Regions from separate parts of the Homo sapiens genome. Here all the other regions are linked to region 2. The links come from fine-mapping of genetic effects on gene expression. A gene starts in region 2. Each other region holds a variant in brackets. All regions are shown on one strand. Distances are between the middles of the regions.

What was found.
Region 1: its variant is fine-mapped to the expression of GRAMD1B in left ventricle (GTEx, PIP above 0.99). The same link has a PIP of 0.9 or more in monocytes.
Region 3: its variant is fine-mapped to the expression of GRAMD1B in whole blood (TOPMed, PIP above 0.99).
Region 4: its variant is fine-mapped to the expression of GRAMD1B in thyroid (GTEx, PIP above 0.99).
Region 5: its variant is fine-mapped to the expression of GRAMD1B in whole blood (TOPMed, PIP above 0.99).
Region 6: its variant is fine-mapped to the expression of GRAMD1B in whole blood (INTERVAL, PIP above 0.99).
Region 7: its variant is fine-mapped to the expression of GRAMD1B in thyroid (GTEx, PIP above 0.99).

The regions. Positions count from the first base shown.
Region 1 is chr11:123,465,522-123,469,586 of GRCh38, reverse strand. All of the region lies in intron 1 of GRAMD1B (GRAM domain containing 1B), which reads right to left. Among named protein-coding and RNA genes, the nearest start is that of GRAMD1B, 37 kb to the right of the region's middle. The variant T/C (reference allele first, on the strand shown) is at 2,050.
Region 2 is chr11:123,428,081-123,432,145 of GRCh38, reverse strand. GRAMD1B (GRAM domain containing 1B) reads right to left here and starts at 1,877. Exons shown (of 20, transcript NM_001387025.1): 1 at 980-1,877. The coding sequence starts at 1,353. It overlaps LOC124902776 (a long non-coding RNA gene), which reads left to right and starts at 932. Exons shown (of 2, transcript XR_007062928.1): 1 at 932-1,199; 2 at 3,330-4,065. RefSeq lists silencers at 1,250-1,299, 1,410-1,739.
Region 3 is chr11:123,605,519-123,609,574 of GRCh38, reverse strand. It overlaps GRAMD1B (GRAM domain containing 1B), which reads right to left. Exons shown (of 20, transcript NM_001387025.1): 11 at 2,777-2,966; 12 at 773-916. Among named protein-coding and RNA genes, the nearest start is that of SCN3B, 47 kb to the left of the region's middle. The variant G/T (reference allele first, on the strand shown) is at 2,266.
Region 4 is chr11:123,557,857-123,561,921 of GRCh38, reverse strand. The region is part of intron 2 of GRAMD1B (GRAM domain containing 1B); the gene reads right to left. Among named protein-coding and RNA genes, the nearest start is that of SCN3B, 95 kb to the left of the region's middle. RefSeq lists enhancers at 448-1,111, 1,112-1,774, 1,775-2,438. The variant CACACACGT/T (reference allele first, on the strand shown) is at 1,741.
Region 5 is chr11:123,458,209-123,462,273 of GRCh38, reverse strand. The region is part of intron 1 of GRAMD1B (GRAM domain containing 1B); the gene reads right to left. Among named protein-coding and RNA genes, the nearest start is that of GRAMD1B, 30 kb to the right of the region's middle. The variant CT/T (reference allele first, on the strand shown) is at 2,469.
Region 6 is chr11:123,471,889-123,475,953 of GRCh38, reverse strand. All of the region lies in intron 1 of GRAMD1B (GRAM domain containing 1B), which reads right to left. Among named protein-coding and RNA genes, the nearest start is that of GRAMD1B, 44 kb to the right of the region's middle. The variant G/A (reference allele first, on the strand shown) is at 2,227.
Region 7 is chr11:123,485,297-123,489,361 of GRCh38, reverse strand. The region is part of intron 2 of GRAMD1B (GRAM domain containing 1B); the gene reads right to left. Among named protein-coding and RNA genes, the nearest start is that of GRAMD1B, 57 kb to the right of the region's middle. The variant G/A (reference allele first, on the strand shown) is at 1,769.

The sequences.
Region 1 (4,065 bases), 37 kb before region 2:
CACCACTGAATTCACCATCTTTTTCTCCTCTCCTTATACTCCACAAGTAAAGATTCATATGAACTAGAAATGCAACCCCACATCAGTTTGACACCAAGTCCTACAGACCTTACTTCTTTAGTGACTCTCGAATCCATCCGCCTTCCATTCATCACTCCGACGGCCTCTGTCTGAAACCAAGCTCTCATCACTCCTCACCCAGATTACTTTAATAGGCTCTTCACTGCCCTCCCCATTGCCACTCTGGCCCCACTCCAGTCTATCCTGACACTGAAACAATGGTCTTACAGAAACACAGATTTAATCATGTCTCTTCCTGGCTTAAAATCCTTTAGCCTTCCCATGATTTCCGAGCAAGTTCCAACTCCTTATCTGAGCAGTAACAGCCTCATAACCTGGCTATTGCCTCTCTACCCAGCTCCCTCACGTCACCTCCGCTCTCCACTCCAGCCCTTCTACTTGCCTCTGCCTTTTAATTTGCCTTTCTACTGGCCTGGTAGAGCCTTTTCTCTCACCCTTCTTTGTCCCAGCTTTGGACTGCCTGAGTTCAAGTCGACTCTTCCACCTACGCTGCTGATGTCCAACCTCTATAAAATGGGGGTGACAATAGCATCTATGTTCTTGGGGTTTTGGGAGAATTAAATAAACACCCACACATACTTGGAGAGATGAGTAGACACACAATATTATAGCTACTATTATTCTTCAAAAGTAGTAAATCTTCCTTGGTGACCACCACCCACATTATGGTCCTATATCACCCTGCACTACTTTTTTTTTTTTTTTTTTTTGATACAGGGTCTCAATCTGTCACCCTGGCTGGATGCAGTGGCAGGATCTTGGCTCACTGCAACCTCTGCCTCCCGGGCTCAAGCAATCCTCCCACCTCGGCCTCCTGAGTAGCTGGGACTATACAGTTGTGCCACCATCACACCGGGCTGATTTTTGTATTTTTTGTAAAGATAAGGTCTCACCATCTTGCCCAGGCTGGTCTTGAACTCCTGGACTCAAGGAATCCACCTGCCTCAGCCTCCCGAAGTGCCAGGATTACAGGCGTGAGCTACCGCACCTGGCCTGCACTAACCTTTATCATAACAATTATCATACTCCTTGGGATGCAGCGATTAATGATTCATTTCCCTAAACCTTCTACCATACTATAAATTATTTGAGAGCGATGGTCCCATTGTGTCATTTTTTTCCACCCACAGTGCCTAGCACATATTAGGTGTATAATACATATCTGATGAATGTGCAAATATCTAGCCCTATCCTCCCTTGATGTATTTGTAAAAGTCTCCACTTCCACTGAGTACTCACTGGTCTGCCCAGAAAGACGCCTTGCTGAGTACTCTCAAATCAGCACAGATTGCACCTTCCTTCCTTGTGCATACTTTTTGAACATCTATGTTGAAAGTACCCTGAGGCTGGGTGCGGTGACTCACACCTGTAATCCCAGCACTTTGGGAGGCCAAGGCGGGTGGATCACGAGGTCAAGAGATTAAGACCATCCTGGCCAACGTGGTGAAACCCTGTCTCTACTAAAAATACAAAAAAATAGCTGAGTGTGGTGGGCATGCCTGTAATCCCAGCTACTCGGGAGGCTGAGGCAGGAGAATCGCCTGAACCCGGGAGGCAGAGGTTGCAGTGAACTCAGACTGCGCCACTTCACTCCAGCTTGGCGACAGAACGAGACTCCATCAAAAACAAAAAAGGAAAGAAAGAAAGGAAGGAAGGAAGGAAGGGAGGGAGGGAGGGAGGGAGGGAAAAGAAAAGAAAGAAAAAGAAGGAAGGAAGGAAGGACCCTGCTAGGCCGTGCTGGATGTGTAAGGCATGGCCCGTGACCTCAGGGAACCCACCACTCCTGATATGTCATTCATCCATCCATGTTTCCACCAACTATGTTTTAGGCATTGGTTCCAGACATCTGGCGATGCCGACTTGAATTAGACATATGTGGACCTTCCCCATAAAGAAGCCACTGTAACAAAACCCGCCAGAATCTTCCTAATGCCAGGGCTCCTCTTTCCTGCCCCCGTGTCAAAGTTG[T/C]GGTCCAATTCTCAGTTATCCAACATGAGGAAGCTGCATCTCAAGCCTGACAGCGCCTCCATGAGAAGGTGGGCAGGAAAGAATATGGCTCTCCATTTAGGCACAACCAGTGAAAGTCAGTAAAAAAAAAAAAAAAAAAAAAAGGTGTTGAAAACCAAGGCTACAACGTTTTTGTTTGTTTCTTTCTGAATTATCTATGAGTATTAATTTTTTAAAAAATTGAGACAGGGTCTCCCTATGTTGCCCAGGCTGATCTTAAACTCCTAGGTGCAAGCAATCCTCCCACCTCGGCCTCCCAAAGTGCTGGGATTACAGGCGAAAGCCACCACACCCAGCCTATCTATAAGCTTTAACTTTTCATGCCAATCCTTAGCTCTCGTGAATACAGATCATGAAGCTCTGGCTAGGAAAAATAAATAAATATTCTTTATCCTTTTTCACAAAGGGTAAATGATCCCTCACCTACAATAAAATTCTAGGCCTATCACCACACATAATTAAAATAATTATACTTACCCCATTATATTCCTCAAATGGGTTCTGAGAAAAGGGGCAAGGAGAAACTGTCAGCTTTAACTCTCTTCACTTGCTCTTAGGTAAAGGAGCACACCACCTTTTTCTAGTTTCCCACATCCTACTAGCTTCCTTGGCCTCAATCACTACTTAACTTCACAGTGAAATCTTCAGCTCTCTCAAGAGAATAAATACAAATTAACCAGATCCCTTACTAAACCTTTACTCAGAAGGTAATGTGGTCAACCAAGTTGCTTCCCAGAACTTGAAGTTTGTAAGAATTGGTCAAAACCCTGGACCAGCCTCAAGGCCAGCCTCCCTCCACTCTCCACACACGCACCATCCCCTCACTTTCCCCCACCCCTACTCCCTGGGTCCCCTTCCTGCCTGTGGAAAATCTCTTGCTTCCCAATGCAGAGTATCCATGTTGGAGAAAGAAGTCAGTGCTGAAAAGCTGCAGAAAGTTCTTAAGCCCAGGGCAAGCCAGAATCCATTTTATGCCCAAATCAGTCAGTCAATCTTTTTCTTTCTTTCTTTTTCTTTCTTTCTTTCTTTTCTTTCTTTCTTTCTTTCTCTTTCTTTCTTTCTTCCTTTCTTTCTTTTTCTCTTTCTTTCTTCCTTTCTTTCTTTTTCTTTCTTTCTCTCTCTCTTTCTTTTTCCTTCCTTCCTTCTTTCCTTCCTTCCTTCCTTCTTTCTTTCTTTCTTTCTCTTTCTCTCTCTCTCTTTCTTTCTTTTCCTTCCTTCCTTCCTTGACAGAGTCTCACTCTGTCACCCACGCTGGAGTGCAGTGCTGTAATCCTGGCTCACTGCAACCTCCACCTCCCAGGTTAAAGCCATTCTCCTGCCTCAGCCTCCCAAGTAGCTGATATAACAGGCGTCCACCACCACTCCCAGCTAATTTTTGTATTTTTAGCAGAAATGGGGTTTCACCATGTTGGCCAGGCTGGTCTTGAACTCCTGACCTCAAGTGATCCGCCCGCGTAGGCCCCACAAAGTGCTGGGATCACAGGCGTGAGCCACCATGCCCAGCCCAAATCTTTATTTTCAACAATCAGTATGATCTTGAGCCCTTTAACTAAACTGCTCCAGTTTAATGAGGAGTTCGAGTATTTTCTCCATCCATTTCCTCTCACAGAGTCAGGCCAGTACACACAGAGAGCTTTCACTTCTGTTTCCTACAATGTCCCAACTTCCTCTCCACCAAGAACCCTCAAACAATATTCCTAAGTGTGTTTCTTTTTTTTTTTTTTCTTTCGAGATGGAGTTTCACTCTTGTTGCCCAGGCTGGAGTACAGTGGTGTGATCTCAGCTTACTGCAACCTCCGCCTCCCGGGTTCAAGTGATTCTCCTGCCTCAGTCTCCCTAGTAGCTGGGATTACAGGTATGCACCACCACACCCGGCTAATTTTGTATTTTTTTTAGTAGAGATGGGGTTTCACCATGTTGGCCAGGCTGGTCTCAAACTCCTGACCTCAGGTGATCCGCCTGCCTCTGCCTCCCAAA
Region 2 (4,065 bases):
ATATTCAGTAAGTACTTACTGAATTGAAATCAATGTAATTGAACAGATTTGGAGAAGGAATTCCAGGGAAAGTGATCAATGACTCAGTTGCTCCGCACAAGAACACAAATCCATTAAGAGACAGGACCCTAAAGTCTCAAAGTAAATATGTAGGATTCGTGGTACCGATGAACAAGTGAGGACTCCCTGCCCTCCACCAGGCAAGGGGCTTGGCTCAGACACAACTTCCTGAAGCAGCAGTCCTGACCAGGGCTGTGTAGAGCTGCTCTAGGGCGCCCTGCAGCAATTCTCTACGTGAGGGAAGCTCAACCTTCTCCCATTACCCAGATGCCACATTGACCTAGGCAAAAAACTAGCTGGTACAAACCACAGTCTTGTAGGTATCGATGTCTAAAGACTCTGATATGGTAGGAAATGTGACTCACTCAATGTCAATATTTCACTTCCACACAAGTGAGCCAGTTAAGGCAATCCGGTGTGGCCAAACATAAAATAAGATTGAAACGGAGTCCTGAAATATAAACCACTTAACTGTTCTCTGGCCTTTTACTATCTCCTTCTGTAGAAAGGGAGCCATAGTAATACCTACCTCAGAGAGTTTGCGTAGGGATGAAATCTGGAGGTACATGAAGTGCGCAACATAGTGGCCCGCACATGGTAAGGGCTCAATAACTATTAGCTGTTATTATTTTTATTATTTATTTCGCTGCGAGGATCAAGGGAGATGGAATGCAGCGTAAAGCCCCACGTAAACGTGTCGTGCAACATGAAGCCCCTCACCCTGAGTTGGGGAGCGGGTGGCACGCGTGGAAGCTGAATGCCACCATCCCTGGGACCAGGCGCAGCGCCCTCCAGAAGCGCCTCTGGTGACGGGCTCCTGTTCTCCCCCAGGACGTTTCCCCCAGAATGCCCCGGGGCCCTGGACGGCTCTGGAGAGGACGGGAGGGAAGGGAAGGAGACGGGCGGAACGGGGACGTACCTGCTTTCACTGCACTCCTTCCGCTCCCTCACCCTCAGCCACTTGCGGAGGAGGAAGCGTTTTCGGCGCGGGGACGCGCTGGGTGTGGAGCAGTTGGACCACGGGGTGTCCTCGTCGCTGGAGGGCGTGATCTCGATGGACGGCAGCTGCAGGAACTCCTTGCCGGGGGCCAAGACGGCGGGCAGGTCCCGGGCCAGCCCGGCCTCCAGGCTCTGCTCCTGTACGTTCTTCATGCGGCGCATCTTGAAGCGCCGGCGGCGAAGCGTGGGGGTCGACGAACTGGACCAGACCGGGCTGCCCTCGGGCGCACCCTGCGGCTCGGGCACCTGCAGGGCGGGCAGCGGCCGGTTCTCCATCATGTTGGCCGCCGGCATGGGGGCCGTCGCCTCTGCGCTCCCCCTGAGCCCTCCGCCAGCGGCCTGGTTCGCGTCTCCCTCTGGCTGTTCCCCACCCTCGGCCCCGCGGCACACTCCCCAATCCTGGGGCCGAAGGAACAAGTTCCTTTCCCGGAGCGCAGCGAGGAAGGGACGCGAGGGGACGCGGCGTAGCGCGCCGCCGCCCGGAGTCTAACTTTTCGGAGCGCGCGTCCTCCGGGCCGTCAGCCGCCGGCGAGGCCACCCGGGAGGGGCGGGAGCCGCCTGCCAGCCACTCGGCAGCCCTCCTGGGGCTCCCCTCGCGCGCCCGCTTGTTTTTCTTCCGCTGCGCTTCCTCGCTTGCTGGCGTCTTTGCCTTAGCGGGACTCGGCAGCCAGGGGCCCCAGGGGGCGGTGCAGCAAACTCTCAGCGGTTTGCGTTCAGCAGACCAGGTTGGGGAGCCGGCTTGGCGCTGCAGGGAGGTAGAGAGCGGGAGGAAGAGGCAGTGGTAGGAGGGAAAGGGAGAGAGAGACAGAGAGAGAGAGAGAGAGAGGAAGCGAGACACTGGATAAAAACAAAAAAGGAGGAGGAGGAGCGGGGGCTGGGGGCGGGGTGAGGGGGGCTATCCTGAATGGGCTAGCACTGGCAGCGACCGCTAGTGTAACTGTACACGGATTCCCTCGGGGAGGGACTCGACCTCCAAGTAAAGGCTGCTCCAATCAGCCTACTGAAATAGGATCACAAACCAAACTTTCTCAGGGCAACGATTGGCCAGGCAACTCCCATTAGTCGAACTCGGCTATTTCCTTGGGGGTGGGGGGTGCAGAGAAAGGGGAGTCAATGAATTCAGTCCTCACTCTCTCAGGCCACCCATGATACAGGGTTGAAGGAAAATGAGGAGACTTTTCAACTAGCTCTTGTCTCCTAAGAAAGGCAGTTTAAATTATTTGGGGGCGTGAGTAGTGGCACTGCAGGCCGGAGTATAGTCAGAGGAGGAAAGCAAGGTTGCTGGAGGCTGCTTCCAAAATGACAAGCTGAGAAGAGGACAGTTCTCCCGTGGCGGCGTGAGCTGAGGATACCAGACATGACATACCAAGGAAAGACAGACAACAGGGTCTGAGAGACAAAGGACACAGGACCAGTAAGGAAAATGGGGCCTGAACCCTGTACATGAGCCAGCTGCCAGTACCATAGCCGCGTCCCTAGCAAAGAATGAAATGAGGAGTCGGTGAGCACCCACAAAGCAATGCATCCAACAGAGCCCCAGGGAGTCGAGGGTACCCCCCCTTACATTGCTGAGGGCTGATTCAGTTCTGCTTCAGCCTGCCATGGACTGAGTCACAGAATCCAGTATGTCCCCATGTCATGGAACCTAGGAAGTCTGGTTCAGTCCTGGTAGCATCCCAAGATGTGCTGAACCACACTCACTCTCTAGACCCAGGCCCTAAGAGATCATCAACCCTAGAACCGATCCATCCTATTTAGGTGCTCTCTGTGGGCACTGAGTCTAACCCAGCCCAGCTCCTAGAGCAGGGCTGTAGCAGCCATTCTCCTCCTTCAACCCCAGCCCAATGCATTTGTCTCTTGGGTCAGTAACTGTTTTGTTTTGTTTTGTTTTTAAGAGACAAAGTCTCACTCTGTTGCCCAGGCTGGAGTGCAGTGGTGCAGTCATGGCTCACCGCAACCTTGAATTCCTGGGCTCAAGCTGTCCTCCCAGCTGAGCCTCCTGAGTAGCTGGGAGTACAGGTGCGCACCACCACACGCAGCTAAGTTTTATTTCTTTTTGTCGATATGAGGTCTTGCTATATTGCCCAGGCTGGTCTCAAACTCCTGGCCTCAAGTGATCTGCCCACCTTGGCCTCCCAAAGTGCTGAGATTACAGGCATGAGCCACCATGCCCAGCCTGGTCAGTAACTTTCAAAGAGATCATGAGAAGCACCCAAGAACATACCATGAAGTCCACAATCTGATCCACCCTTCTTTTCTGCCTCTCTCAGAGTCCAGTTTCCATCTGGGAGCCAATGCCCAGCTTCCGTGCCAGGACAAAAGTCACATTTCACAAGTGTCCCGAAGCTGAGGAAAATTCACATCCCTAAAGATCACAAGAATTCACTGCAAGTAAATACATCCCTGCAGTTCAGCAAGACATCAAGGATGACAGCTGGCTATGGATCTACCAAGCTCTGCAATGACACTTGTCAAGTATGGAAAAGCTCAAGGCATCCTGACATTACACAACTTTTGAGAGGCTGGGAAACCAAGGGAAATATTTCTTCCTCAGGGAGAGAGATACTGCGGCTGAAGAGCCAAGGCCAGGCCCTCCCATAAATGACTCCCTGGAATGTCAGCCCCCGTTTCTGAAATCCAGCCACTGGCCCTCTCAGGAGTGATTTGGTTTCACTCTACTTTAACTCCTGGACATAGCACAGAAAGCAGAAACCCCTTGCCATCAGGTGTCAGGCCTGCCAAGGTCACCTCTTCCGGCTCCAGGGATGCTGAGGAGATTGCACTGTAACTCCAAACTTCAGGATCGGGAGCTAAGCCAAGTTCCACAGAGTTTGTTCACTGCCTTGTACTTCCTCCAAGGACGAGTGTTTTGCAAGGGATCTGATAACTTCCCAGTTCAAGGAACCTGAGTTTTGGGCGGGCTCTTGACATAGAAGATGAGGGTCTCAGGGGCTTATGGGAAGAAAGGAAGCCAGGACACCACCATTCGCTTGGAGGCCAAAAACA
Region 3 (4,056 bases), 180 kb before region 2:
CCAGAATGCTGATTGTTCCTGGGGCTGGGACAGGAGGTCTTGGGGCCACCTACGGGGGTGCTGGCAACACTGGTGTTACTGTGGCGAGGGCCTAGGGTCCCTTGGGAACAAGTCCTCTCCTCTAAGCCATGACCTCCCCGTGCCCTCAGCGTGCCCTCTCCTCTTGGCACACAGGATCGCTGATGCCCAAATGCTTTGTTACAGCTGGATGCTTAGAGGTCCCTGCTGTGGGAAGAGTTTGGGGGAAGGGGAGGAGGCAGAAGCACAGAGGGTCAAAGCATGAACCCCCAGATCCTAGATGTGAGGCCCGGCCTAGCTCCTTCTTAGCTGCATGAGGTCAGGCAAGCACTAACAGTTTGAGTTCCAGCAGCCTCATCGGTGTCCACACACAGGGTAGCTGTGAGGTCTGAATGAGATAACGTCACGTGCATGGCATAGAGTGGGTGCTGCCAGCGAGTGAGAGCCACTGTGCTTTACTAGATGGTGAGCCCTGTGAGGGGAGGGACAGGGTAGGTCTTAGGGGCCGGCATCGAGTGCCTGGTGTGTAGTGGGAAAGGGTGAAGCTGCAGGGCTGGTGAAAAGGGAGGGCAACAGGGCCTGAAGGAGCTCCCGAACCACAGAAGGCTGGAGAGAGGGTGTCTGGGCCCTGAGGTGGCCGAGGGAAGGAGGGTGTGTGGAAAGAAGAATAAGGAAGGGAAGGAAGCAAATGTAGAGAGGGAAGAAGTGAGGATGAAGAGGGAGGAATGGGGGGTACAGTCCCAGCAGAACGGACCAGAGAAGCGCCGCTGCTCCATGAAATCCCGCTGGAAGGGCGAGTTGGTGAAGAGGAGGTCATAGAGCTTGTCCACGCTGAAGTTGAAGACTTCATTCACGTACTGCCGGCCACTCAGGTCCTCATAGAAGGCCTGGACCTCTCCTGCACAGAAGAGAGGATCAGGAAGTAGACAGTGACAGCGGAGGGGGAGGGGGCCCCAGGGACATCCTCCAAGAGCACTTAGGTCTCTGGCTAATATGAGCACAGTCAACAAGGGTATGGAGAGGACACGGAGCAGGACAGCTGAGCTCGTGGGCATGGTTTATGACTTTGCTTTCGGTCTCTTTCTTTTGCTGGGATGCACACCATTTCCTTTAGCTGACACTACCCATTCCTTCTTTACAAAGTGTTTGGGAATGTACGATTTGCTTTTACACTTTCAAACCTCCCTAATTCAGTTGATCTTAGACTAAAATTCAAATAAATGACTACTTCTGGAAGTTGCCTAAACCCAAAGAATGGGGTTTTGAGAGTCTGTAAGTTAACTCTAATCGACAACAAATTGTAGTTGTAACCCATGGCATAGGTCTGTTCGAGGGAACGTAGACTAATCTGGAAGAATCAGTGTACAGAACTGCTGCTAAGGCTGGGGCTGGTCCAATAGGCTGTGATCCCTAACTACAGTTCCATAAGACAGCCTATTTCTACCATGATGTCAATACCTACTCCCCTTTTTAAACTTAGGATTACAGCTTCATCATATAGCAAAATAAGAATTCAAATCAGAATGAGAGGCACACAGAGCAAGGTGTGGGAGGGCTCCAAAAATGGAGCTTCCTTCAGTCTCAGGGATGCAAAGCCCTTCTGGCACATCACTGTGTCCATATACAGAAGATTGCCAGCCAGGGAATTTCACCTGTAATCTGAATTTTCCAGCTGCTACAGGAGGATGCAAATGAGGATACAGGAGAGCTGCTAAAGCCTCAGTGCTCCCCCCCGAACCCTTGGCACCCCTCAGTCCCTAATTACTGCACCTGCATGGGTGGGTATGTGATCTCAGGAGGAGGCTGCCATTTCTGGCACCCCTAGGACCCTGAGGAAACCAGAGAACTCTGAAGTACCCTGTAGGGGTCAAGTCCTATGACTGCACAGATGGGTACTGCACAAGTGCAGCGCAGCGGGTATTCACACCTTAGTTTATGTGAAAGGCACCCTGGAGTTAGGCAGTATCTAACCCATGCAGTCACTTGTGCCAACCCTGGACTCTAGATGGGGGTGGGTAAACCAACCAAAAGTTAGAAAACCACTGCAGGTGGCCCCTGGGAGAGGTGTCCACAGATCCACAAGTGAGCACCGTGCTCATATGCTCACCAGTCATAACAGACCACTCACTCAATGGAGGAAATCCATCAATTGATTTCATGAATGCTGAGAATTTGGCTTCTCTCCATGGAAGGTAAGCAGCAGCATGTTCCCAAGGGAGGTTCTAGAAGCTAATCCTATGCAGGCAT[G/T]AAGTTAGAAGCTACCTGCTTACAAAAATTAGAGAAACAAGGGAGTCTCCAAACCCTATTTGACCCAGCAACACCTTTTCTTCTAGCTGGGCCTAAATACCCCATGCAGCAAAAATTGCATTAACAAGTTTCGCAGCTATCTTGAGGACGTTTCTGTTAAAATCTAATTATTTCCAGGGAGCAGCTGACTGGCACCTTCCTTGTGGCTTATAAACATTGCCTAGACTTGCGTGTCTGTGAGGGTCAGGGTCGCAAGGCAAGCCAATGTCAATAGGGGGAACATTTAGTGACAAGACTAAATGACAGAACAAAGCATTATCTATGGGAGGCTCCTACAGCAAATGACTGAAAACAGGGATGTAAACTAATAACAGGTACCTTTTGTTAAGGAAGCTCTGCTCCCATCTCTCCACCAGGAACCTAGAGACTAACTACAGTCCCCACATAGAGATCTCCTTTTAGCCTTCAAAACAGAGCAAGGGCCACTCCAGACCCATTTTCAAATGCCCACCTTCATCGTGTGTGTCGGAAGAGTCACTGAGCTCAGTGGGGATGTCCTCATTGTCATTGAAGTCCAGTGAAGGGGAGTTCACAGGAGCGATCATCTCAATCTTCTCCCCCATGATGTTGTCAATGGCGAGCTCCTTTTCCAGGGACCCGTCTCCCTCCAGCGCCTCTTCCTCCAGGGGCAGCCCATCAAACTGGAGCCAAGACAGAGGAGTCACCCACCAGGGAAACCTGGTCTGGATCTATTCTCCAAAGGGAGATTAGGGATGCAGCCTTGGCAGCTCTCATACTCCCAGCTCAGCTGCTCAGGAGCGAAGTCAGAGTCAGGCTCCAAAGCCCTTCCCCAGAGCTGCCACAGAGGATGGGCAAACACAGTACAAGGACTACTGCACTTCTCACGCTCGCCATTCCAACAGCACAACAAGCTCCCCAAATGCACAGAGCTGGTCCCCACAGGCCCAGGCCCTTTCCTGGAGCCGCACCTGCACCATCCTGCAACAAGGTCAGCCTGCCTCCAGGTAGTACCTGTTTATCCTAAGAAGCTCGAAAGGCTTCATAAGCATTTTTTAAAACTCATTCTCTCATTAGCCCTGGAAGGGAATCGATACAACTCTTTACATTTTAAAGATAACCTCAGAGATGGAAAATAAAGACCAGGTATCCAATGAATAATGTTTTCATTCTGAAGGCAGGTGGTCTGATCCATAGCCTACTGAAATACAAGGCTCTTTGAGGGAGTCCTTTCCTGAAGAACCCTACCTGTTCTTCTGCCTGCCAGCACATGCCCTGACCCTCTTTCCTCATCAAGGTTCTACCTCCTCTATTAACAGAGTCCCACAGGACAGAGGTTCTCTTACACATTTTTATGGCTTCCATAAAGTCTACCACAGTGGAGAAATAAGCCACAATACGTATACTCAACAAATATCAACCAAATGAGTGGATAAACAATTAATTGTTCTATAGTTCTATATTCATGCATGACTTTGACGTCAGATCAAGGCAGTGAAAAAATACCTGGAATTGTTCTCTACCAGAAGGGCTGATCAGCAGCAGCCCAGCACAGTGGGCTTGAAATGGTTTTCATCTGCTCAGAAGTCAAACCCAGTCTTGTACCCCAGGCACCTAGCCCCAGCTCTGGACCCCGGGCTATGCCACTAGAATACGGAGAGCCCATCTGCTCCAGAATGCCTCCTTGAAGAAACTGACAACAATGTAACCAATCTCCTCTCTACCTGCTCCCCAGATTGGGTTCCCAGTGAACTATGCTAGGAAACGCTGGCC
Region 4 (4,065 bases), 130 kb before region 2:
CTTTTTAATCATGGCCTTGACATTATCAATCTCCTGCTCCGGGTGGCTCCCAAAATCATCCCTTTCCCTTACCCTTCTTCCAAGGCCAGCTTTTTTCATCTTGGTTCCAAACTTCTCTAACCTGCCGAGTGCTATCCAAGGCAAAGGCTAGAAATATGACCACCATTCAAGGTCAGCTGCAGAGGGAGGAGAGGCAGGAGGTAGAGGAGCGAGGGGGTCTCCCCGGAGCACAGTGTGCTAGCAAGTACCAGAGAAGAGGCAAAGATGGCTTTCTCTAGCCCTGCCTGAGCTCTTGGCTGAGGCCCCGGGGACAGAGCAAGCTCCAAGTCCTCCCCCAGCCCTCTACTTCCTAAATCAAGCAAATAACTAACAATGCAAGGAGGTGTGGGGGAGTAAGGCCCAGCCACTGGGTAGCTATTTTCTCAAAATACATGGCAAATCTCTGCGCCAAATGCTGGCTAAGCCAAAGAATAAACAAATCCTTTTATTTCTCTGAGATGAGAGCTATCAACTTCCCCTTTCATCCTCTCCTTCTGCTGGCCAGATCCATCTGTCCCATGGCCCTCTCCCTGTGGGATAAGCAGTGTCTGTCCATATCTTCCTGACCACAGCTCTGGCCAGCTCCTACCCCCGCCGGAGGCACTGCGGAGGGAAGCCAGCAGGTGGAGAACAGGAGCACATGGCCTGTCCACACCTCCCCCAGAAGCTCTCAGCCAGTTCTCCATGATGCATTGTGCCACTAATTCATTCCTCTGCCCTCCTTTCTCCAAGTTAGAGGGCACTGAATTAAGTCTTGCTGGACAAGGAGACCATCATCACCCTCAACCCAGCCTGTCTCTCCAGCCCACCCCAGGGCCACCCCTCCGTGATCCAGAGCTCAGCTCAAGCAGTGCTACTATAGAGGAGAAAAGAAAAGGCTAGGGAGGGAAAAGAAGGTGGCATCTCTGCAGCATGATGTCACACTGGCTGCTTTCGGATCCCCAGAACAGAAAACAGAAGCAAACAACATGGACTCCGGATTTACTCTGCCTTGAAAGGTTTGTGTTCTTGGCAGCTCTGAGCAGCCTGCGTCAGATGAGAAAAGCACACAACCAGAAAGACAGGTCTTCACCACAGCCCCCAGGGCCCCATTCTGACCCCAGGACAGAGCCACCGCTTCCAAAAAATCCCACGAGGAAACAAAGATACACACACACACACACACACACACACACACACACACACACACACACACACACGCACCAGGCGTCAGCACGAGTTAGCACTAACCTGGAAGCCATTAGGTAGGAACAGTAGCAGAGTGCAGTGCAGAGAGGAACTCATTCATTCATGCATTGGGCAGTGGGGGGCGGGGGCGGGGAGCGGGGGCCCTGAGGAGGCTGGAGGGCACTCACCTCCATGACCATCCCAAAGCCCTGTTTCTAACGGGGGAGGGGACTCGGGCCAGGGCTCTCAGAAGCTGGGGGCGCTTCTTTGCTCTGCTGTTTCACACCGCTGTAGCATTTTAAGCATGACTCCCCTTTATTTCCCTCTCCCCCACCTCCCTCTGCTGCTGTTATTTGGTGTGGTCGTGCCGCCTTACAGAAGTCCCTCTCTCTCTCTGCCTGGCTCCCTTTCTCTCTCTCCCTCTGACTCCCTCACAGACAGCTGTTCTGAGCTCAGGCACGCACGCGCACAGGCGCACAGACACACTCAGACACGCACCCCTCTTGCGCGCAGACACGCACACGCGCACACACG[CACACACGT/T]CGCCTGCCGGTTTACATAATGCAACTCTTTGGTGCAGTCAGCTTGCCGGCGCTCAATTATTCATGCCAGCGTGGAGGACAGAGCCGCTGGGGCTGCGGGGGGGGGGGTTATTTCCTCTTCACCCTCAATCCGACAAAATACAAGACCATGTTCCCCGGAGACTCTGCTCCCTTCGCTGCCACCAATTATTTCCCAGGTGCTGCCCACTAGGTCGACCTGTATCAAGGAGGTGACACTAAATAAAAACACAGGTGCCTGGCTCTAAAGAGAGTCGTGCATCCTTCAAAGGATGGCGGCTCTCTCACGGCCCGAGGCCTGGGAGTAGAGGAAGAGAGGAGGCCAGCACTGAGACCATAATCCGCAAGAAAAGATGGCCGAGGGCCTCTTCAGTGTAGCTGCTCCCAGACTTCCAGGATGCTCGCTTCTCCCGCAGGTCAGGCTCTCACAGACAGCAAGAGTAACACTCAGGGAAAGCACTTACATTCGTGGCAAAGCAGAGTCGTCTGGGTCTTCTAATTCTAAGCTGCACCTCTTAGAAGTGTTTTTTTTTTCTCTGTCCATTCACCGAAATGCAGTATTAGTACTCAGACAGCCCCCAGAGGAAAGTTCTGGCAGTGCGAGGTATTCTATTCAGCAACGATATTAATAATATTTTGAAAGTCATTCATGACTTACAAAGCATTTTGCCTACATTCAATCATTTCATTCCCACCACAATCACCTAAATACTGACCTGTTTAGTGGATCTGGAAACTGAGTCCTGGAAAAGTGAAGGTCCCATGCAAGAAAGAGGCAGAGCTGGGAATCCAGATCACCTGCCTCTAGACCCATGGCGATTAACTAATTGCCTCACACCCCAACTATTTGAGAACCATTGTCATCTCTTGAGGGATGTAGCACAAAACCGACAACACTAACAATGATGATGGTTAGCTCAATGCCTGGGAAACTTTAATCCCCTAAGAATCTTCTTCACCCACAGATTCTGATAGAGCAGGTCTAGGGGACCACCCAAAAGTCAGCCTTTCTAACAAACCCCAGGCGATGCCCACGTTGCTATTCCGGGACCACCCTGAACAGCAAATGTTTGGCTTATGCATTCTCATGCTTTGAATCTTCCAAAAAGACAGTTTTGTCTGTCCACTGCAGCTGCATAGGAAAACATGCTGAAGGTGAATAATAATTACAATCCATTGATGTCACCTGCATCCTGCTCGAACTCATGCTGAGAGCTAATATTTCTTGGGCATCTGTTGGCAAAATGTCTCATTCTGGGAGGGCCAGCCCCTGCAGGCTCATCATGAAAAGTCTTTCCAAGATTGCTTCTGTCTGCAGCCCGTTGATAGAACAGCAGCCGCACAGTATCCGGGAAGCAGATAGTTCTGGGCTGTCTGGCCCTGCCTCCGTTACCTAGAGGAATCCCAGCTCCAAAGAAAGGTATATTGGCAATGCCCCAATTTCAGCCTCCCTCCTTGTCTGGCTCAAGTCCGACTTCTTCTGAAATGCCTTTCTGGCTCTTCTCTGTTAATCCACGGAAAGATCTTGGACTAGAGTCAGATCTGAAACCAAAACTGAGTTGCATTGCTTGTTGGTCACCCACGTACTCTTATCTCAAACTCAGTTTCTTCATCTGAAAATGCTAATACTACATATTTCCTCCTTTGTACTGTTGAAAAGATGATGAAGTCAAAAAAGCATGTGAAAGCACCCGAGAACGGTTGGGTACCTCTCCTGCCCCTGCCCTTACAGTATACATTTAGAACTTAATTGCAGGTTCTGTTGTCCTCTGTTGGTTTTACATCCCTGAGAAGATCGTAGGCTATTTTTTCTTTCATGTCCCTCCAGCATGTAGGAGTACTGGGTACACACATATTCAGTAAATATCTTTGGGCTGGGCATGGTGGCTCATGCCTGTAATCTCAGCAGTTTGGGAGGGAGAGGCGGGTGAATCACTTGAGCTCAGGAGTTTTAGACCAGCCTGGCCAACGTGGTGAAACCCCATCTCTACTAAAAATACAAAAATTAGCCAGGCATAGTGGCACACAATTGTAATCCCAGCTACTCGGGAGGCTGAGGCAGGAGAATCTCTTGAACCTAGGAGGCAGAGGTTGCTGTGAGCCATGATCGCACCACTGCACTCCAGCCTGGGCGACAGAGCAAGACTCTGCATTAAAAAAAAAAAAAAAAAAAAAAAAGTTGCACTGAATGTCCTTTCCTCCATTAAGGCATAGACACAGGGGTTGGTGGAATCAAGTGGCCAGAGTCCTAGTCCTAACTTCCCCACTCACTTACTATGTAACTTTGAACAAGTTGTGC
Region 5 (4,065 bases), 30 kb before region 2:
AATGACTGGCCCGGCACGGTGGCTCACACCTGTAATCCCAGCACTTTGGGAGGCCAAGGCGGGCAGATCACGAGGTCAGGAGATCGAGACCATCCTGGCTAACATGGTGAAACCTCATCTCTACTAAAAATACAGAAAAATTGGCCAGGCATGGTGGCGGGCGCCTGTGGTCCCAGCTACTCGGGAGGCTGAGGCAGGAGAATGGCGTGAACCCAGGAGGTGGACCTTGCAGTGAGCCAAGACCGTGCCACTGCACTCCAGCCTGGGCGACAGAGCAAGATCCCATTTCAAAAAAAAAAAAAAAAAGAAATAAACAAATGACCATACCAGAAAAAAAAAAAACCTGCACTTGAAAGTAGAGCTATCTTGGCCGGGCGCAGTGGCTCATGCCTGTAATCCCAGCACTTTGGGAGGCTGAGGCGGGGGTATCGCATGAGGTCAGGAGTTTGAGACCAGCCTGGCCAACATGGTGAAACCCCCGTCTCTACTAAAAATACAAAAATTAGCCGAGTGTGGTGGTGGACACCTGTAATCCCAGCTACTCGGGAGGCTAAGGCAGAAGAATCACTTGAACCCAGGAGGCAGAGGTTGCAGTGAGCCGAGATCACGCCATTGCACTGCAGCCTGGGCAACAAGAACGAAACTCTGTCTCAAAACAAAACAACAACAACAACAAAAAGTAGAGCTGTCTCAACAACCAGCTGGGGAAGAAACCATAGACAATCCAAAAAAGACAGAGCAGTGTGCCAAGGCATAGGCCAGGACTTCCCAGAGCTAGAGCCAGGGCTGGAGAGACTTCTAGGAGGCCAGTGACGTTTGGCCTGCAGCCCAAGGGGGAGTCTTTGGGAACCAGAGAGGCCAGCACCACCTCATTTAGCCACAAGGACAGGAATCACAAGGGCTCGGCCAGCTGCAGACAGAAATGCTGGTGCCCTGGGGGACTCTTAGGAAACAGTCCTGGTAGCAGTGCCAGCTTGGCTTTTCTGCCAGCTGAAGTCAACATAGCTTGATTTAGGAGCCAACCTGGAGTCAGTCGGGGCAGCTGATTCCCCAGAAAGACGACTGAACTGACAAGAACATTTTAGAAGCAGCCCAGGCAACAGGAGCACTGGTCCATTCACATCTGATTGAAGACCAAACTCAATTAAGACTCAATATGTTTTTAAGACATTTTTTATGACTATGGCTTCCCAACTGGCTATTAATTTTGCTATCACCTGTTTCCCTCTAGTCAACACAAGCCAAACCTCTTAAAAAGCCAAAAATATGTGAATTCCAAAAGGTCACGAGGTGGGAAAGACACAGAGAGCCTTGTGTTCTTCCTGGACGGCCCAGGAAAGAGGCGCCCAAGGAAAGGAGAAGCTGATGCACCTGGGAAGGCAGATGGATTCTTGGGTCCTAAAGGGACAAAGGAAACGTAGGAGCAGGGGATTCATGCAGAAACCCTATCAAAGACCAACCGCTCTAGTGACCTCGGAGCTCAAGGACAAGCAGCCCGCAAGCTGTGCTGTTTTCCAGAAAGAATCCTTTCAGCTTCCTGCCTCCCCTTCCCTGCCCCACTCCTGTCCGCCCCCCAAATCCTGCTGACCCAACCACCATCCAATTTCATTTGCCCTTAGCCCCGGGAAAAACTGGCTTATGGTAAAAGCATTATCTTGTTTTTTCCAATTGGAAGACATAAAAACAGTCCTAACCAAAAACTCTGGTCATTAACACTCACAGAGTGCCCTGGGGGGCCTGGGGAGAAATCCCCGCATTGACTGGGGCTGGAGTCACGGTGTCTAGGTGTAATTGCCACAAATCTGCCCAATCACGCTCCTGGCCTATATCCAATTAACCCTCTTCAAGTTCAGTCCCGGAACCCACTGAACTTGGACAAGAACATAAAAAGGATTTTGATGGTCCACAAAGTAGATAATTCATGTACTTTAATTCATCTACTATATTTTCTACTATATTCATCTACTATAATTCATCTGTTTCCACAATGCCATTTTCCACTCAGGATTAAACTCCATGTCTTCTCTGCCAAGCACTTTGACAGCCTTCTGATAAGCTTGTCATACCACACATGGTCACTTTTCAGTAGCATGGAGGCAACAGGTACTGGATAATTCAGGATATCGAGCAGAAGAAAACAGAAGTTGACTAATCCACAAACCATTTATTTTTAGTTTGAGAATTTTAATGAAACACACACACACGTATGTCCAATCACACTCCTGGCCTATATCCAATTAACTCTCTTCAAGTTCAGTTCTGGGACCCACTGAACTTGAAGGGACAAGGGTGAGGACAAGGACATAAAAATGGACAAGAACATAAAAAGGATGTTGATGCTCCATAAAGTAAATAATTCATTCACTCAGAAAACACTTTTTGAATGGCAATCTGTACACAGAAAACAGATGAGAGGCAAGCTTTGGGTGAGCCAGGTGTCCAGTGAGAAGGTAGCAGAACAAATTTAC[CT/T]AAGACCCAGCCCTGCCCTCCAGAACCTCAGTGTGTGTTTAGGAACAGGACTTAAAGTATAAAGATAGTTGTGAATAACCAGTTCACATCATAGGGGAAGGGTCAACTAACAGGTATTTGAGTACCTAGTATATGGATTTTTTGCACACTATCTCACTTAAAAGTCAGTATTTGAAGAAAATAATATTCTTCTCTCTCTTTTTTATCAAACTCAATTCTTTTATCTTCAATTCCTTTAAATCATGAATATGGCCGACCACAGTGGTGCATGCCTGTAATCTCAACAATTTGGGAGGCCGAGGTGGGTGGATCATCTGAAGTCGGGAGTTGGAGACCAGCCTAGACAACATGGCAAAACCCCACCTCTATTAAAAATAGAAAATTAGCCAGGTATGGTGGCTCACACCTGTAATCCCAGCTACTCTGGAGGCTGAGGCAGGAGAATTGCTTGAACCCAGGAGATGGAGGTTGCAGTGAGCCCAGATCATGCCACTGCACTCTCGCCTGGGTGACAAAAGCAAAACTCCATCTCAAAAAAAAAAAAAGAAGATAAGGGTTCATGAAGATTTTCCCATGATCAGCAAATTAAAAAAAAATATATAGAAGTGTCTTATTTCTTTGCAATCAAATACCCCAATCTGCCCTAACTCCAAGGGCTGGTCACCATAACTATAACCCATCTACAATGCAGTGCATGTTCTTTGTCATCTACACAGCCTCTGCTACAACAAGCTCCTAGAAACACTTTTCCAAACTCATGGCTAGGAAGGCCATTGTGTCTGTGATTGTCTGAATATTCTGTTAACTCCGCTGTGTATTACGGTGTGCATTAAGCATTAAAGTGATTGTTCTCACTGAGCTCAGACTCAGAGTTGGGGGGAAATTACAGGAGCACAAAGGACTAGCCCCAAAAGAACCTCCACTTCAATCACCAAGCCATACCTGGAACTACCCATTTGCAGACTTGAAATTTGAAAATAACCCACCCGTATACACACTCTACATGTTGAGAGATACTTGTTCTTATCACTCAGAATGCTCCCATTCTCCTGGAATTTTTTGCCCATTACTCACATTGGGGAGTATGAAGAGGAGGGGAAAAAAAAAAAAAAACAAAACAGCCTTTCACTGTTTCCTTATCTAGGATACTGTTCATCCTATAAATCAAAAAAGGGATTTGCATCAAATTCTTTATGACCATTTTCTTCTCAGATTGATTTTAGTGAGAAGGTAATTGTGATGGTTAATTTTAGGTGTCAGTTTGACTGGATTAAAGACTACCTAGGAACCCGGTAAAGCATTATTTTTGGGCGTGTCTGTGAAGATGTTGCCAGAAGAGATCAGCATGTGAGTCTGAGTGGACTAGGTGCGGAAGATCCGCCCTCATTGTGAGTGGGCACCATCCATTCTGCTGGGGGCCTGGAAAACAAAAACTGAGAAAAGGTGAATATGTGAATGGAACTGCCAGAGTTGGATTATATTCTTCCTCTCTCTGTCCCTCAGTGGCTCTCTGAGTTCTAGGCCTTTGGCCTCAAACCGAGAGTTACAACATCAGCTTCTCTGGTTCTGAGGCCTGCAGACTTGGACTGAGCCACG
Region 6 (4,065 bases), 44 kb before region 2:
GCCACCTGGACCCCAGGCAACTCACGCTGCTCCCTAAATAAACCTACCAGTCTTCGGAGACCATGAAAAGAGCAACCTCCAGGCCAAGGTGTTTATAAAGGAGTGCAGCATGCTACAAGGTCAAAAAGCACACCTCCCTCCACTCCAGATTAGTCAAGGCCTTAGTGGGAGAAGACATCCAGTCTGCGTCCACTCTGGGATTCAGGAGGTTGAAAAGAACTTGGAGAAAGTCCAGCAGAGGGCACTAACAGATGAAACTGTCTGTTGGAAACCCTGAAAAAGAAACTCTAAACTAGGATTTGGAATGTCCTTGCCTGGGCACCGGATGACTGAAAGATGGCTTAACACTGCAAGGAAGGGAATTTGTATAAGCAACTGCTTGCCATTCGCTCAAGACAGCTAGATATGGAACTAGGATGACTTTAATCCCTCCTGCTGTACATTCAAGCTTCAGATAAAATTCACTGTATAAATTAAATTTTGGAACACTAGACCATGTTCCTAAATAAGATGGGAAGCTCTTGGTAAAATTCTGGGATATTCCTGAGGGAAACCAGCTGAAGCAGAATCCTGGTTTTGTTTAAGACCAGCGTGCTAGTGCAGGAGCTTATCCTGGAAGGTCACATTAATACCAGCAGCACTGGAAGGACTGGGAAAAATCCACAGGAATCTGAGCCAAAGCACGCTCCACAAGGGAGAAATTCACTAGGCTTTGACCAGGAAGCTCTGCAATGCGGGCTGGGCAAATTCTCATGATTCCAGTGATCTCCCTTCCTCCCTCCCTGTACCCAGGACACGTGCAGAAAGTACAGACTAAACCCACGAACCACCAGGAAGCCGTCCTTCTGCCCTCTGAAAGGCACGGCTTTACTGCTAGAAAGACGGAATATGGCAACCTCTACTGAGTAGGTGCTTCCTAGGGAGAAACAGCTCTTTCTCTTCCAGGCAACCCTACAGGAGTCATAGCTTCCTATGCCCAGAAGGGGTTCTGAGAGATTCAGGTGGTCCCAAGCCGTCATGGGGGCATGTAGGCTGTAATGCAGTATTTCCAGAGCCTGATGGAAACTACATTTACCCACACCCAGGCTGCAGAGACTAATGTACTGCATCTCTTTACTTCTGGCTGCAACTGAGGCAATCTCTCCTGTTAGTATCAATTATCTCATGCTAATTAGAAGCTGCAAAAGGCTCTGAGTGGCAGTTATAGATGTCTTTGTGTCTTTGTTAATAAAAATGGGGAAATATATTATTTTAAGCAGTGATACAGTAGAAATAGCACCAAGGCAGACAAACCTGGGTTTGCCCCCTGCCTTTATTTGTTTTTTGTTTTTCTGGATTGAGGTCCTTGGGACATAGGCTTTGTTTCTTATTAGCCTTCTAACCTTGGCCAAGTCACTTATCCTCCCTTAGCCTATTTCCTGAAAAATGGAGACTTATTGCGATTACTCACAACTTAGTCCTCTATTTATAGAACTGCACAGAGGATTAAGTTGTGAATAATCCAGTCACAGTATCTGAGTTCAGGATATGGCGTCAGAGAGACGCACATTCTAGTCCTGACTCTGCCACTTAGCAGAGGGGGAGATTGAGAAAATTATTTCACTTTTCTAACAGTCAGATGTGGGTAATAATGCATGCCTTAAAAGACTGCAGTTCTGTTGGATTCAAGATTGCCATTACTTTAAAAAAAATTAAAAGTTAAAAAAAAGAAAACATTGCAGTGGGGATTAGAAATGGTAGAAATCATCTGTAGAACATGTTTAGGGCAGTAGCAGGCCCTTGGTGAGTGTATCATAAATGGTGGATATCTATTACACTGAGTATTCAGTTAGTGTGTCAGAATATTTTGAAATAGCCAGTGCATGGGAGAAAGATAACAGAAAAGGCCCTTAGCCTGAAAAGTAGGGCCTCACCACCACTGACAGAAGAGAGAGCTGGGTTTTCATGCTAAATTATTTCTACATATAAAATGACTCTGGCATTTACTATTTCAGCTTAAGTAGGAAAGGTGTATGGGGGAAGAGAAGGCAGGTAGCAAAGATGGAGAGAATAAAGGAGGAGTTTCTGTGTGCCACCTGGCAAGCAGGTATGGACAAGTCTAATAATAGAAAATAAGTAAACAAATGTGACTGGGGTACTGCCACCTCCTTACAGAACATCCCTCAATATCCTCAAACACCACTTAGAAATAACATACTTGAGGTGAATATTGAGAATTTGTCTACC[G/A]AGTTAGAAGGTTCACTTCTGCTTAATAGCTCCCATGGGAACCTGCAGCAAGGTGGGTAGAATCCCTGGTCAAAGATTCAGGGATTCAAAATCCAGCTAAATATCTTCCTAGCTCCTTACAACTCATGAATACTTCTCTATTTAATGGTTCTTGGGACTGGGTGAGGTGGGTCACACCTGTAATCCCAGCATTTTGGGAGGTTGAGGAAGGAGGATCTCTGGAGCCCGGGAGTTTTGAGACCAGCCTGGGTAATACAGTGAGACTTCATCTCTACAAAAAATAAATGAAAACAAAAATTAGCACGGTGTGGTGGTGTGTGCCTGTAGTCCTAGCTACTGGTGATATGGGAGTTAAGAAGAAATTGTCAGGGCACGGTGGCTCACGCCTGTAATCCCAGCACTTTGGGAGGCCGAGGTGGGCAGATCACCTGAGGTCAGGAGTTCGAGACCAGCCTGGCTAACATGGTGAAACCCCGTCTCTACTACAAATACAAAACTTAGCCAGGCATGGTGGCAGACTCCTGTAATCCCAGCTACTCGGGAGGCTGAGGCAGGAGAATTGTTTGAACCCGGAGGCAGAGGTTGCAGTGAGCCAAGATTGCACCATTGCTCTCCAGCCTGGGGGACAAGAGCGAGACTTCGTCTCAAAAAATAAAAGAAGAAATTATTTAGGCAGATAGTGAGGGTAAGGAAGTCCTCCGTAAGATTTTCCTGTTAATGAAAAGCATCCCCCAAATCATTTTCTTTTCTAACAAAGAGCAGCCTGTAAAATTTAGCTGCAGACATAGACAAGCAAGCTGGAAGCTTCCATGGGTGAATGCCAGCAGTTGTGCCAATAGGAAAAGGCTACCTGGGACTAGGCATGTTCAAAATGGTGGCTCCATCTTCCCTTCTCTTTGCCAGCCACATGTATGGTAAGGAGCAGACAACATGGTGCCAGCCAAGTGGAAAGCCCATCTGGATAATAAGATTAGGGTGGAGTGGCCAGCCTTCCCCCTGGGCTATGTAAACGTCACACCTGGTCCAACCAGTCTGTGAGCCCTATATAAATCAGACACCACCTCCTCAAGCCTGTCTATAAAAATCTGGTGCACTCCACAGCACCTGGCGTAATTCCCATTTGGGTGCCCCTCTCTCTCACAAGAGTGAGTTGTTCTTTCTCTTTCTTTCGCCTATTAAACCTTCACTCCTAAACTCACTCCTCATGTGTGTCTGTGTCCTTAATTTTCTTGGCATGAGATGACGAACCTTGGGTATTACCCCAGACAACAACGCTGCTTCACCGGGGAGGCCGAGGTGGGAGGAACGCTTGAGCCAAAGAGATCAAGGTTACAGTGAACTATTATCACACCACTGCACTCCAGCCCAGGCAACAGGGTGAAACCATATCACTAAAAAAATAAAATAGTTCACCTCTGAACATGCCCATGTCTGTGTTTAACAAAAGAAAAGGCTCTCTCTCCACTTCTTTCTTTTTTCTTTTTCTCTTTTTTTTTTTTTGAGACAGAGTCTTGCTCCATTGCCCAGGCTGGAGTGCAGTGGCATGATCTTGGCTCACTGCAACCTCTGCCTCCTGAGTTCAAGTTCCCACCTTAGCCTCCTGAGTAGCTGGGATGACAGGCCCGCACCACCATGCCTGGCTATGTTGGCCAGGCTTGTCTTGAACTCCTGGCCTCAAATGATCCACCTGGATTGGCCTCCCAAAGTGCTGGGATTATAGGCATGAGCCACCACACCCAGCGTTAGTTTTCCTCTCTTGATGGCCATTTTATTGCAAGAACATACATACTACTTTGTAATTGCTGAACTTCCATTAAAACAATATTATAATAAATTCAG
Region 7 (4,065 bases), 57 kb before region 2:
CAGTCTTGTCCCCTGAGCTTCAAACGGTGTAGCCAATGGCCTAGTGTTTCTATCCACTGGCACACTCCATGAGTAGTTCACTCTACATGACTAAATTAAACTCACTGCCACCTCTGCTCCTCAAATCCTTCGTCCTCGACCCACTGTTTTAATGATAATAATACTAATAGGCACATACACATTAACCACAGGCCAGGCATGATTTCAATTTTTTTTTTTAACTCTTCTAGGACCCTTTATCTGGGGACATAAATGGACAGGCTCCCTGGGTGGGTGCTGACAAGCCCTTCTCTCCCCTTAGTCCAGTGGCCCCTGAATCTGCCCCACTTCCATGCCCAGGTGGATACCATTCCTCTAGCACCTGCCGTTCCTGGGCCATCTAAGGGGTCAACCTTAAGGGGGTACGCAGAGAGGTAAGGACCGCCCCCCCCTAACTATTTTCCCTGAGCTCCAAATTTCCATCGGGTCCCACGCCCCTTCCTCTGTTGACCAGGGTGCACCATGGACATGGAGCCACATCTTTATGTTGCTCTCTCTTCCTGTCTCCCTTGAGCATCGCTCTTTCACTGCATCCCTGATGCTCTCATGAGATACACTTCTAGGGTAGGGCTCCCCATCACTGAGTGTGACAGTGGAGGAGGAGGGCCAAAGCTTTCAGTCAGGGCCATGGGGTGGCAACGGGGGAGGAGGAGGGCCAAAGCTTTCAGTCAGGGCCGTGGGGTGGCGAGGGGAGAAGATCCGGCTCCCCAGGTTCACACCTCCGTTCCGACACGTCATCACCCCCATGGCCTTGTTCTTGATGCCTGATGGCCATATTAAGTCACTGGGCTGAAAAATTACTCAAGAGCAGGGACCATGTCTTCATCTTGGAATCCCTTACGTGGTGCCTAGCAGACAGCAGGGCCAGGCAGCCAGTTAATGCCAGGCCACAGGTTTTCCATTATACCATGCCCAAATGCCCGGCCTGGAGAGCTCCGGGGGGAGGTATCCATCCTCCACAGCCCCGGAGGGGCTAGGACTCAACTCTGAACACCTCCCAGGTGTGATTTTTCTCACAAGAATATTTGGGAGCTACCTGGTGCTATAGACTCAGTGTTGGTGCCCCACCCCCAAATGTATATGTTGAAATCCTAACCTCCAGTGCAATGGTATTAAGAGGTGGGGCCGTAAATCATGAAAGTGGAGCCCTCATGAATGTAATTAGTGCCCCTATAAGGGGGCTGAAGAGATCAGAGTTCTCCTTTTTACCACGTAAGGACAAAGCAAGAAGACAGCTGTCTATGAAGAAAACAGGACCTCACCTGAATGCCCAAATCTTGATCTTGGACTTCCCGGGCTCCAAAATGGAAAGAAATAATTTTCTGTGATGTACAAGACACCCAGTCTATGGTATTCTGTTACAGCTGCCTGCACTAAGACACTCGGGTGCTCAGTTTCTCAACATAACTCAGTGGCAGCTGGGTGCCGTGGCTCACGTCTGTAATCCCAGAACTTGGGGAGGCCGAAGCAGGCAGATCCCCTGAAATCAGGAGGTTGAGACCAGCCTGGCCAACATGGTGAAACCCTGTCTCTACTAAAAATACAAAAATTAGCTGGGCATGATGGCGGGCGCCCAGCTAAACCCAGCTACTCAGGAGGCTGAGACAAGACACTTGCTTGAACCCAGGAGGCGGAGGTTGCAGTGAGCCGAGATTGCATCACTGTACTCCAGCCTGGGTGACAAAGCAAGACTGTCTCTAAAAAAACAAAATCAAACAAACAAAAAAAC[G/A]TAACTTACTGGTTTCCAGTCATCCATAAAGAATACTCACTCCTTATCACAGCAGGACGTGGCATGACCAGGCACTTGCCTACCTGTCCAAAGGCCTTTCCTGGCCACTCACTAGCTACCCCTCTCCTAGGATATGGCGCTGCAGCAACACTGAAGTATTTGTGGTTCCCGAACATGCCTTGCTTTCTCCCGCCTCCATGCTTATGTACATCTTGTTCCCTGGCTTGCAAATGCTGTCCATGTGACAGACTCCTACTCCTCTTGCAGTTCTCAGCTGAAGCACAGCCCCCTCTGTAGAGTTTTCTGGAAACCCTCCCACCCCTGCCCTCACCCCAGAGTAGCTGTGTTTCTCTGGGGCAAGTTTAATTCCCCGAGCCTTGGTTTTCCTAAACTCTAATATGCAGATAATGGCATGTACCTGATAAGGCTGTTGAGAGGAATATATTTAAAAATGTATGCAAGGTTTATTACACAGGTTTAAGCACAGAGTAAGCACTTAGTGAACTTCTTTATTTATTTTCTTTTGAGACAGAGTCTCACTCTGTCATCCAGGGTGGAGTGCAGTGGTGCGATCTCAGCTCACTGCACTCTCTGCCTCCTGGACTCAAGTGATTCTCCAGCCTTAGCCTCCTGAGTAGCTGGGACTACAGGCGCACACCACCACACCCAGCTAATCTTTGTATTTTTAGTAGAGACAGGGTTTTGCCATGTTGGCGGCTGGTCTCAGACTCCGGGCCTCAAAGGGATCCACCCCCATCGGCTTCCCCGATTGCTGGGATTACAGGCATGAGCCACCACACCCAGCTTGTAAAATTCTTCAGTTTTATTACCTTACGCATAATTTCTTAAGTCATTTATTACATTATATTATACTTGTTTATTTGTAAGTATATCACACCATAAGAGAATCAGCTTCTTGAGGGGAAATACCACAACTTAATCTATTTATCTGGAGTCTAAATATGTGACATTTGCAGATGCTCAATATTCTACACTTTCTTTCTGCCTTTGCTTTTTCTTTTTGTTTTTTTTTTTTTTTCTTTTTTGAGACAGGGTCTCACTCTGTCACCCAGGCTGGACTGCAGTAGCACAGTCTAGGCTCATTACAACCTTCGCCTCCCATGCTCAAGGGATCTTGTACCTCAGCCTCCCAAGTAGCTGGGACCACAGGCGCATGCCACCATGCCCGGCTAATTTTTTGTAGTTTTGATAAAGACGGGCTTTTGCCATGTTTCTCAGGCTGGTCTCAAACTCCTGAGCTCAGGCAATCCACCCACGTCGGCCTCCCCAAGTGCTGGGATTGCAGGGGTGAGCCACGGTGCCCGGCTTTGTCTCTGCTTTGTCAAGAACAGAAGGGTGTAAGATCTGGTAGGAAACTGAGAGTAAAATGTTATGATAGCCAGAATCAGAGTGCAAGCAGCTACCATTTATTAAGCATCCACTTAATGGCTCTTTACGAATGTTTTCTCATGTATTCTTTACAAGAAAATCCAATGGACATCAAATTTTTACAAAGGAGGAAACTAAGGTTGAGGGTTGAGTAACACTAAGTAAATTGACTTTACAAATGCACAATCAGGCTGGGTGCAGTGGCTCACGCCTGTAATCCCAACACTTTGGGAGACAGAGGCAGGTGGATTGCTTGAGGTCAGGAGTTCTAGACCAGCCTGGCCAACATGGTGAAACCCCATCTCTACCAAAAAATACAAAAGTTAGCCAGGCATGGTGGCACACACCTGTAGTCCCAGCTACTCGAGAGGCTGAGGCAGAAGAATCTCTTGAACCTGGAAGGTGGAGGTTACCGTGAGCCAAGATCATGCCACTATTCCACCCTGGGTAACAGAGCAAGATTCTGTCTCAAAAAAAAAAAAAAAAAAAGAATGAATTAATGTCCTATATTCCATACACACACACTTCGGGGAAGTTACCTATTTTGCTTTCTACTGGACACCTGGAAGAATTATTCTTATCTCTGAGACAATCTCCATTTCCTAATAAACACATTTTCATAAAAATCAACCCTTCTTGCTGATGCCACACCCACTCAGCAAATGTATGTCACAGTCCTTCAACCTACGCTCTACTCCTGTCAAGGTTCCAAAGTCTTTCCTTCAGGACAGAGCGTCAATGTGAATAAGGAAAAAATCTTTCTCAGAAATCCTTAGGTTTGAACACCGTATTAAGGTATTCCACCCACTGCTGTGTAGAGTAAGGTAGCTACGTAGTCTCTGAATACTATAACCGTTCTGAACCTTACACAAAAGCAAGAAAAGAAAATGTTTTATTAAACCAGCTGA